Homo sapiens: one gene and its partner. The protein of the gene in region 1 binds, or shares a complex with, the protein of each later gene. Each region holds a gene or a part of one and is shown in the gene's direction. Other genes may lie near its edges. The genes, in order: GINS1 and MCM5.

Region 1 (3,684 bases):
GAGTAGCTGGGACTACAGGTGCCCGCCACCATGCCTGGCTAATTTTTTTGCATTTTTAGTAGAGACGGGGTTTCACCGTGTTAGCCAGGATGGTCTTGATCTCCTGACCTCGTGATCCACCCGCCTCGGCCTCCCAAAGTGCTGGGATTATAGGCGTGATCCACTGCCCCTGGGCCAACTTTGTATTTTTTAGTAGAGACGCGGTTTCTCCATGTTGGTTAGGCTGGTCTTGAACCCCCGACCTCAGGTGATCCGCCTACCTTGGTGTCCTAAAGTGCTGGGATTTCAGGCATGAGCCACCGTACCCAGCCCCTTAAGTTTAACTTTCAACTACTTACTTGTTGGAGTTTGAAAACTAATCAGTGCTACTTTTTAATGATACAAGAAATAATTTCAAATTCTTTCCCAATCATTTATTTTACTCTTTCTCCATCCCTTCTTGTCCCCTCAGCACTTTTTACCTCGATGGAAATGTGAGCAGCTGATCAGACAAGGAGTCCTGGAGCACATCCTGTCATGACCATGCGCCGAGGCACTTCCAGGCTTCACTCAACTCATGGACTCCTCTGTACTCACTCTCTCCACCACTCCCTTCACCTCCCTCTTTGATTTTAGAAGCTATAGACATTGTTTAAGATAACTAAGAATACTTGGCTAAGAAGTATAATTTGCTAACTATTAAGGACTTTCTTTTTTTAATGTTGTACACTATTCTTCCTACTCTTTTTTGGTTTTGGTTTTGTTTTGTAGAGACTGTCTCACTATGTTGCCCAAGCTGGTCTCAAACTCCTGGCCTCAAGCAGTCCTCCCACCTTAGCTTCTCAAAGTGTTGAGATCACAGGCGTGAGCCACTGCACCCGGCCCCTACTCCTTTTTCTAATAAGCTGTATCTGTAATCACAGCATTCCTACAGTTGTTACAGTGTGTTTTTTAAATGAAAGTAAACATGGTTACATTTGAATCTCTTAAATAAGCAGTCACTTGGCTGGACAGGAAGAAGGTAGATCCTGTGTGTCTTGTTTTCTGGTCATGTGTATTGTACAAGCTAGAGAGCTGAATTTCTGAGATACACATTTTCAAATCACATGCAAGTGAAGATGATGGTCTGTAGAAATTTTCAGTATATATAATGTTTAATGACATACTAATTTATCATCTGGCTATTTGGGAAGGAAGGACACACATGGATTTTGCACATTTCCACCATGGTGGCTGGTGTGGCTTGTGGCTATGGGGTGATCACCAGTATCACCACTTTGGAAGGGGACAGTGAAATTGGGGCTAGAGAAGGAACTTTGTACAGTTTTCCCTGAGATTCAGATTGACTGAAAAGTCACATGAAGAGTTGATTGTCTTTTAATGGTATGTTTTAAACAGCTGACATTTTAAATTTTGATGAAATCCAGTTTATTCGTTTGTTCTTTTATGCTTTGGGTGTTGCATCCGAGAAATCTTTTCCCATCCCAAGATCACAATTTTTTTTCCTTTTTACTTCTAGAAGTGTTATAATTTTAAGCTTTATACTTTGGTCTATGACCCGTTTTTTTTTTTGTTTTGTTTTGTTTTTTCGTTTGTTTCTTTGTTTTGAGATGGAGTCTTGTTCTGTCACCCAGGCTGGGGTGCAGTGGCGTGATCTTGGCTCACTGCAATCTCTATCCCCTGGGTTCAAGTGATTCTCTTGTCTCAGCCTCCCAAGTAGCTGGGATTACAGGCACAGGCCGCCACGCCTGGCTAATTTTTGTATTTTTAGTAGAGACAGAGTTTTACCATGTTGGCCAGGCTGGTTTCAAACTCCTGACCTCAAGTGACCCACCTTGGCCTCCCAAAGTTTTGGGATTACAAGTGTGGGCCACCGCGGCCAGCCTATGATCCATTTTGAATGAATTTTTTATATGGTGCAAGGTGTCAATCCACCTTCACTTTTTCTTGGGAATATAGATATCCAGCTGTTTCACTACCATTTTTTGAAAGGACTGCCCTTTGCTCTATCACCTTTGCATTTTTGTTAAAAAGTAGTTGTCAATGTATATGTGGGTTTATTTCAGGACTCTGTTTTGTTCCATTGACCTGTTTTTCTCTCCTGAATGCCAATACCATATTTGTATGTAGTGTATGTAATTTTCTAATAATTCTTGAAACAGATAGTATTAATGTGTCATATTTTTGCTGTTGTTTGTATTTTTTGTAGAGATGGGGTTTCACCGTGTTGGCCAGGCTGTGTTGAACTCCTGAGCTAAAGCAATACACTTGCCTCGTCCTCCCCATGTGCTGGGATTACAGGCGTGAGCCTTGGTGCTGGCCCAGTGTACCACATTTCTTTTTGAGATTTGTTTTGGCTATGTTAAGTCCTTTGCTTTTGATGTGAAATTTGGGAACAGGCAGGGTGTGGTGGCTTATGCCTGTAATCCTAGAACTTTGGGAGGCCTAGATGGGTGGATCACTTGAGCTCAGGAGTTCCAGACCAGCCCGGGCCTATGGCAAAACTCCGTCTCTACAAAAAATAGAAAAAATTAGCCAGGTGTGGTGGTGCATGCCTGTAGTCACAGTTACACGGCAGGCTGAGGTGGGAGGATCACTTGAACCCCAGAGGTCAAGACTGCAGTGAGCTGAGATCACACCACTGTACTCCAGCCTGGGTGACAAAGTGAGACTCTATCTCAAAAAGAAATTAGGATCAATTTGTCAATTTCTACAACAACAACAACAAAAACCCCTGTTGGGCACCTTGATTGAGATTGCATTGAATTTATATAAAACTGTTGGGAGAATTGACATCTTAATAATATTGAGTCTTCTGGCCTATAAACAAGGTCTGTCTTCCTAGGTATTAATGTTTTGTCTTCTATTTCTCTTAATAATCTTTTGTAGTTTTCAGTGTACAGGTCTACCATGTCAGCATTTCATAGTTTTGATGCTAAATGGTATTTTAAAATTTCAAATTCTAACCACTTGTTGCTAGTAAATAGAAATACAATTGATGTTGAACTTGTATCCTTCAGCCTTGCTAAACTGTGAGTTCTCATGGTGTTTTTGTAAATTACATCAACAGTCATGTGTTCTATGAATAAAGAGTTTTACTCCTTCCTTTCTAATCTGAATGCCTTTTATTTCTTTTTCTTGCCTGATGGCATTGGTTAGAACTTCCAGTAGAGTACTAAATATATGTGGTCAAAGACACCCCTATCTTGTTCCTGATCTAAGAAGGAAAACAGTCTTTCACTATTATGATGTTTGTTAGCTCTTAAGTTGTTTGTAGATGCCCTTTATTGGGGTAGGAAGTTCCTTCCTATTCCTAGTGATATGGTTTGGCTGTGTCCCTACCCAAATCTCAACTTGAACTGTAATAATTCCCATGTGTCAAGGGCAGGGCCAGGTGAAATAATTGAATCAAGGGGGTAGTTTTCCCCATACTTTTCTGGTGTTAGTCAATAAGTCTCACGAGATCTGATGGTTTTATAAATGGGAGTTCCCCTGGACATGCTCTTTTGCCTGCCACCATGTAAGACGTGACTTTGGTCCCTATCCATTTGCCTTATGCTGTGATTGTGAGGCCTCCCCAGCCATGTGGAACTGTCAATTAAATCTCTTTCCTTTATAAATTACCCACTCTCCAGTATGTCTTTATTAGCAGCATAAGACGACTAATACACCTAGTTTACTGAGAATTTTTTTAAAAGTCAGAAA
Region 2 (7,153 bases), on another chromosome or scaffold:
TGGAGATACTTAACCACAGAATCCAGGGCTCCACCTGGGATGGGGCTCTAGAATTTTTTTTTTTTTTTTTTTTTTTTTGAGACGGAGTCTTGCTCTGTCACCCAGGCTGGAGTGCAGTGGCGCGATCTTGACTCACTGGAAGCTCCGCCTCCCGGGTTCACGCTATTCTCCTGCCTCAGCCTCCTGAGTAGCTGGGACTATAGGCACCCACCACCATGCCCGGCTAATTTTTTGTATTTTTAGTGGAGACGGAGGTCACAGGTTTCACCGTGTTAGCCAGGATGGTCTCGATCTCCTGACCTCGTGATCCGCCCGCCTTGGACTCCCAAAGTGCTGGGATTACAGGCGCGAGCCACCGCACCCAGCCTAGAATCAGTATTTTTGAAAAGTACCTTAGGAGAGTCCAACGCGCACCCAGGTCCAGGAGCACGTATGGTCACGTATGCAAAGCATAGGCATTCAAATAGCAGCTGGAGCTGGGCACGGTGGCTCACGACTATAATCCCAACACTTTTGGGAGGCTGAGACAGGCGGATTTCTTGAGGCCAGGAGTTTGAGACCAGCCCGGCCAACACAGTGAAAACCTGCCTCTACTAAAACCACAAAATTAGCTGGAAGTGGTGGCGCATGCCTGTAATCCCAGCTACTCCGGGGGCTGAGGCAGGAGAATCACTTGAATCCGGGAGGCTGAGGTTGCAGTGAGCCGAGATCGCACCAATGCACTCCAGCCTTAGCAACAGAGCAAGACTCTGTCTCAAAAAAACAAAACAAAAACCCAATAGCAGCTGGGACTCTCCTGCCCTGGGCCCAGTTTCCTCATTTGTGAAAGGGGAATAGATATTCATTGTACTGACAAAGAAAGGAAGGAAGAGGGGAGGGGAGAGAGAGAAACTATCTTGAATTTTACTAATAGGAGAATGGCTGAATAATTTTTTCCTATCAATTGTCGAACAAAGCCAGACACTAGTTAAAGTGGTAAGGACGACCGGGCACGGTGGCTCATGCCTGTAATCCCAGCACTTTGGGAGGCCGAGGAGGGCAGATCATGAGGTCAGGAGTTTGAGACTGGCCTGACCAACATGGTGAAACTCTGTCTCTACTAAAAATACAAAAATTAACCGGGCATGGTGGCGCGTGCCTGTAATCCCAGCTACCAGGAGGCTGAGGCAGGAGAACTGCTTGAACTTGGGAAACGGAGGTTGCAGTGAGCTGAAATTATGCCACTGCACTCCAGCCTGGGTGATAAAGCGAGAATCCGTCTCAAAAAAAAAAAGTGGTAAGGACAGATTTTAATCAGTAATGATTATTGCAACAGGGAAGAGAGTTCAGTATGAACTGAACTCAGCTTTAATTTGTATAGAGGTATTTTAAAGGGAGGTTGACCAGCCTGGGCAATATGGTAAAACCCCATCTCTACAAATGAATAAATAAATTCGCCGGGCATGGTGGTGAGGTTGAGGTGGGAGGATTGCACGAGCCTGGGAGGTCAAGGCTGCAGTGAGCTGTGATTGCACCACCGCACTCTAGCATTGGCAACAGAGACCCTGTCTCAAAAAAATAAATAAAAAAAATAAAGGAAGATTGAGGGAGGAAGGGGTGGGCAAGTGATTAGTAGAGTCAGGGAAGTGAAATATTACAAAAGGTTAAGTCAGTGTAAATGCAGTGAGGCTAGCTGTGTCTGCCAGTTGGCAATGATCAAAGTTAGAATTTTTGCCTCCCACAGAGCCTGGGAGACAGAGGTCACATCCTCGGTTGTTGCCTGGAATAAACGGTAAACATTTACCAGCAGCCTTGAGTTTTCTCAGGCAGGCACCTTAGCGGGGGCTGGCTAGAGTCATTTTAGAGATGTTAGCAGCTGTTAGAAACTGTTAGTGTTTGTTTAAGTCTTTTTTTCTTTTCTTTTTTTTTTTTTTTGAGATTAAGTTTCACTCTTGTCGCCCAGACTGGAGTGTAGTGGCACGATCTCGGCTCACTGCAACCTCCGCCTCCCAGGTTCAAGCGATTCTCCTGCCTCAGGCTTCCAAGTAGCTGGGATTACAAGCGCCTGCCACCACGCCCGGCTAAGTTTTGTATTTTTAGTAGACACAGGGTTTCACCATGTTGGCCAGGCTGGTCTTGAACTCCCGCCTCAGCCTCCCAAAATGCTGGGATTACAGGTGTGAGCCACGGCGCCTGGACTGTCTTTTTTTTCTTTTTAGAGATGAGTCTCGCTCTGTCGCTCAGGCTGAAGTGCAGTGGTGCAATCAAAACTCACTGCAGTCTCAAACTCCTGGGCTCAGGCCATCCTCCCACCTTGGCCTCTTGAGTAGCTAGGACAACAGGTGTGCTCCACCATGCCCAGCTAATTAAAAAAAAATTTCAAGCCGGGCGCAGTGGCTCATGCCTGTAATCCCAGCATCTTGGAAGGCTCAGGCGGGTGGATCACCTGAGGTCAGGAGTTCAAGGCTGGCCAACATGGTGAAACCCTGTCTCTACTAAAAATACAAAAAATTAGCCAGGCGTGGTGGCACACACCTGTAATTCCAGCTACTTGGGAAGCTGAGGCAGGAGAATTGCTTGAACCCAGGAGGTGGAAGTTGCAGTGAGCCGAGATCGTGACACTGCACTCCAGCCTGGGCAACAGAGTGAGACTCTGTCTCAAAACAAAAAAAATTATAAAAAAATTTCTAGAGAAGCGGGATCTTGCTATGTTGCCCAGGCTGGCCTCAACTCCTGGACTCAAGGGATCCTCTCATCTTGGTCTCCTGAAGTGCTAGGATTACAGGCATGAGCCACAGTGCCTATAGATCAAGGTTGAGGCTTAGAAGTGAAGGGAGCCCAGAGGAACCTGGCTAGAGTTTGGTCAAGGAGAGTCTTTGTCACCATACTACAGAAAATTAAGCAGCTGTTAAACAGAATGAGGCCGGTCTGGGCATGGTGGCTCACGCCTGTAATTCCAGCACTTTGGGAGGCCGAAGCGAGTGGATCACTTGAGGCCAGAAGTTCGAGACCAGTGTGGGCAACATGGTGAAACCCTGTCTCCACTAAAAATACAAAAATTAGCTGAGCATGGTGGCGCCTGCCTGTAGTCCCAGCTAGTTGGGAGGCTGAGGCAGGAGAATCGCTTGAACCGGGGAGGCAGAAGTTGCAGTGAGCCGAGATTGAGCCACTGCACTCCATCCTGGGGGACAGAGTGAGACTCCCTCTCAACAAATAAATAAACAAATAAAAGCAGTGTGTTAGGGTGCGAGAACCCGGGTCGGGGACGCGGGTGAGCCGCGCGGTAATCGCCCTGTCCTGCCACCAGCTGGAGGACAGGGGCTCCTCAGAGCCTCAGGCCCAGAGAACGGGCCCCACGACCGGGAAGCGAATACTCCACAGGGCACAGTCTCCCAATGCAAAATGGGCACCTGGACCCAATCATTTCTGAACTTCTAGTTTTTTCTCCCTATGGCTATGAAAAGGGTCATTTTTTTTCATAGGACTTTAAAAGAAGGCTTAAGAAAAGCACGCAGGCCTGGCCGGGTAGCTCACGCCAGTAATCCCAGTGCTTTGGGACGTCAAGGCAGGCGGGTCGCTTGAGAGTAGAGTTTCGAGACCTGGGCAAGATGGTGAGACTCCGTCTTTATGAAATATTTTAAGAAAATCACGTACACCTGTGGTCCCCGCTACAAGGGAGGCTGAGGCGGAAGGATTGCTTGAGCCCAAGAGGTTGAGGCTACAGTAAGCCGTGATCCAGCCACTGCACTCCATCCCCGGCAACACAACGAGACCATGCGTCAGGAAAAAAAAAAAAAAACCAAGAAAATAAAAAAGAAACCACCTAAAGGCGTCCTCCGCGCGCCCGCCCCTCCGCCATCTTTGCGTCCGCCCCGTCCTGCGCCGCCACTTCCTTCCCAGCCAGAAGTTTCGCGCCAAATTGTTCCGCACACAAAATGGAGCCCGGAAGGAGGCGAGGTCATGCACTTTGCAGCCAATCATCTTCGGCAGACAGTCCGGGCGGCGGGGCTGGAGGGCTCAGAACGGTCCAATCGCTGGCCGCGAGGCTCCGGCGAACCAATGGGAGCGCAGCGGCTGCGGCGTCCGAACACCGCCTCTTGTTTTTCCCGCGAAACTCGGCGGCTGAGCGTGGAGGTTCTTGTCTCCCCTGGTTTGTGAAGTGCGGAAAACCAGAGGTGAGGCTAGTGGGAGTGGGACTGGGACTGGGAGCCAGCAGGCATCTGGATTTCCGGGTGTAGTTGGAGTGGGACAGGAGTTTCTCGGGAACTGGGGTTGGAGTCCGGGAGCGCGGCCGGGGGTCCCCCTGCTCCGGACTCAGGGCAGGGACCCAGGCGTCGGAGGGGAGGAGGTGCCAGGCGCTGCCCCCAGCCTGTTCTGGCCGTTTGTTCCCACCCCAGGCGCAGTCATGTCGGGATTCGACGATCCTGGCATTTTCTACAGCGACAGCTTCGGGGGCGACGCCCAGGCCGACGAGGGGCAGGCCCGCAAATCGCAGCTGCAGAGGCGCTTCAAGGAGTTCCTGCGGCAGTACCGAGTGGGCACCGACCGCACGGGCTTCACCTTCAAATACAGGTGCGGCTCCTGCGGGGCCGGGGGCTCGAGTTCCAGTGTGGCCGCTCACACGCCTCTACCAGCCTGCTAGAGTCCTGGACAGTCAGGGCACAGATGGGCCCAGACGGGGGAAAGAGCCGGTCCTGGGTCACAGGGCTCATCCCGGCAGCCTCACGCCTTGGTATAAGGCTTTGTGTATTTTGTTTTACTTTATTTTATTTTATTTTATTATTAACGTATTTGTTTATTATTTTGAGACGGAGTCTCGCTCTGTCGCCAGGCTGGAGTGCAGTGGCACGATCTCGGCTCACTGCAACCTCCGCTTCCCGGGTTCAAGCGATTCTTGTGCCTCAGCCTCCCGAGTAGGTGGGACTACCCCCGCCATCACCACGCCCGGATAATTTTTTGTAATTTTAGTAGAGATGGGGTTTCGCCATGTTCGCCAGGCTGCTCTCGAACTCCTGACCTCAAGTGATCCACCCGCCTCAGTCTCCCAAAGTGCTGGGATTACAGGCGTGAGCCACCGTGCCCGGCCTGCTTTGTGTATTTTATCTGTACCTGGAGTTAACTTCTGGGTGAGTCACCTGTTGAGTGGGCCACCAGCAACCAGCTAGCGCCACTTGGACCGTTTAGTTCTTTATCCAGATCTTGTTCCTGTTCATCTGCTTCCTATCATCCTTCCATGTCATGTCTGAGACCTTACAAACTCAAGTTCCCTGTAGGTGTAAAAGGTGAAGATGGCAGTTAGGATTCACTTCACTTCGCTCATTCATTTATTTATACCAGTCTTGCACCTTCATTGATTGAGCACCTGCTGCCTGCCAGATACTGTTCTGGGTGCTGGGCTGCAGCACTGAAGCTGGACCTGGCTCCTGCTTCTAGGTGATTGTACGACCTGTGACATCATGAGAATTCTCATAGGCCCGGCCTCTATCCCTGAAATGTTAAAATGCAGAGAACATGAGGTTGCAGGTTCAGCACTGGCCCATTATTAGCTGAGTGACTTCCAGGTGTCAGTGTCTCTGGGCCTCACCAGGCCAGAAATGGGTAAAGCCATTCCTGCTTTCACTTACTCATGCAGCAGCTGATATTGCCCACCTGTGTGCCAGGCACTGCGCTACAAAGATGAAAAGACGTGCTTCTTGTCCTAGAGAAGCTCCTAAGTCAGAGGAGTGAGTCGTGAAGACCAACAGATAACTTCCACGGTGGTCATTTCCTCCACAGAGGAAGGTGAAAGGACTTAGGGAAGTTTTCCGGGGGGCTGAAGTTTGAGGGGACCTTTGAGCTAAGGTCAGAGTTGCAGGTGTAGAAAGCTTTCTGTCTAGGTAGGAGCAATTGCTTGTGTAGAGGTGTGGGGTGTCCTCACAGCAAGTGGCTTTCAGTAGCAGTCTGGCCATTTTACTGGCTCCTGGACATAAGGGAGACGGGGCTCAGGCCTGTGATACTGCGAGGCTGGGGAACAGCCTGTGCGTTGGTCAGTGGTCCCCAAATATGTTCTTGCCACAGCAGTCACATGGGATGCTCTGCTAAGCATCTGGGCTGGACGCAGTGGCTCATGCTTGTAATTCCGACGCTTTGGGAGGCTGATGCCAATGGATCATTTGACCCCAGGAGTTCAAGACCTGGCTGGGCAACATAGTGAAACCCAGGCTCTATTTAAAAAAAAACAGTCTGACTAGAGGTTGATAAGGCAGATGTGTTTTCTGCTGCCTTGGTGCCTCCAGTTTTTTTGTTGTTTTGTTTTTTGTTTTTTTTTTTTTGAGATGGAGTCTCGCTCTGTCACCCAGGTTTGAGTACAGTGGCGTGATCTTGGCTCACTGCAACTGCTGCCTGCCGGGTTCAAGTGATTCTCCTGCCTCAGTCCCCCAAGTAGCTAGGATTACAGGCATCCGCCACCACACCCGGCTAGGTTTTTTTTTTTGTATTTTTAGTAGAGATGGGGTTTCTCCATGTTGGTGAGGCTGGTACCTTTTTGGTTTTTTTTTTTGAGACAGAGTCTCAGTCTGTCGCCCAGGCTGGAGTGCCCTGGCGAGATCTCTGGTCACTGCAGCCTCCACCTCTGGGGTTCAGGCATTCTCATGCCTCAGTAGCTGGGACTACAGGCGTATGCTACCATGCCCGGCTAATCTTCGTATTTTTAGTAGAGACTGGGTGTTGCCATGTGGCCCAGGCTGGTGTTGAACTCCTGGCCTCAAGTAATCCACCCTCCTCAGCTTCCTAAAGTGTTGGGATTACAGGCATGAGCCACCTCACTGGGCCCCAAGTTTGAGCTGTGTGCATTGTTCTTTTCCAAGAGAAGTTAAAGGCTCTGCGGAGTCCTTCAGTGACAGAACTGGTTTGTTGTTTTGTGCACGCTGGCCTGGGTGTTGAAACATCCTTTGACTGTCTTGTGGACCCCTTCCATGGAGCTTTCTTTAGGGCATGCCTGTGCCAGCAGTGAGTAGCCTCTGCAGGGTTAAATAATGGAATGATCTGGAATTAGATGTGTGTTTGGGAAGAGGAATGGTGAGGTCATGGTGGCTGTGGTGTGGGCAGATTCAGGGGTGCAGGCACACCTCAGCCAGTGTTGGTTTCCTCTTCTTTGCACCCTTCCTGCCCCACCCTGCTATGTGCCCACTCCAGG

What was found.
Region 2: GINS1 (region 1) and MCM5 share a complex: the UniProt entries of both Homo sapiens proteins name them as parts of the CMG helicase complex.

Annotation. Positions count from the first base shown.
Region 1 is NC_000020.11:25,445,472-25,449,155, forward strand, and holds the end of GINS1 (DNA replication complex GINS protein PSF1), read left to right. Parts: intron 1-451; coding exon 452-520; 3' UTR 521-3,092; downstream 3,093-3,684. UniProt on the Homo sapiens protein: Required for correct functioning of the GINS complex, a complex that plays an essential role in the initiation of DNA replication, and progression of DNA replication forks.
Region 2 is NC_000022.11:35,396,055-35,403,207, forward strand, and holds the start of MCM5 (DNA replication licensing factor MCM5), read left to right. Parts: upstream 1-4,085; 5' UTR 4,086-4,154; intron 4,155-4,376; 5' UTR 4,377-4,384; coding exon 4,385-4,551; intron 4,552-7,152; coding exon 7,153-7,153. UniProt on the Homo sapiens protein: Acts as a component of the MCM2-7 complex (MCM complex) which is the replicative helicase essential for 'once per cell cycle' DNA replication initiation and elongation in eukaryotic cells.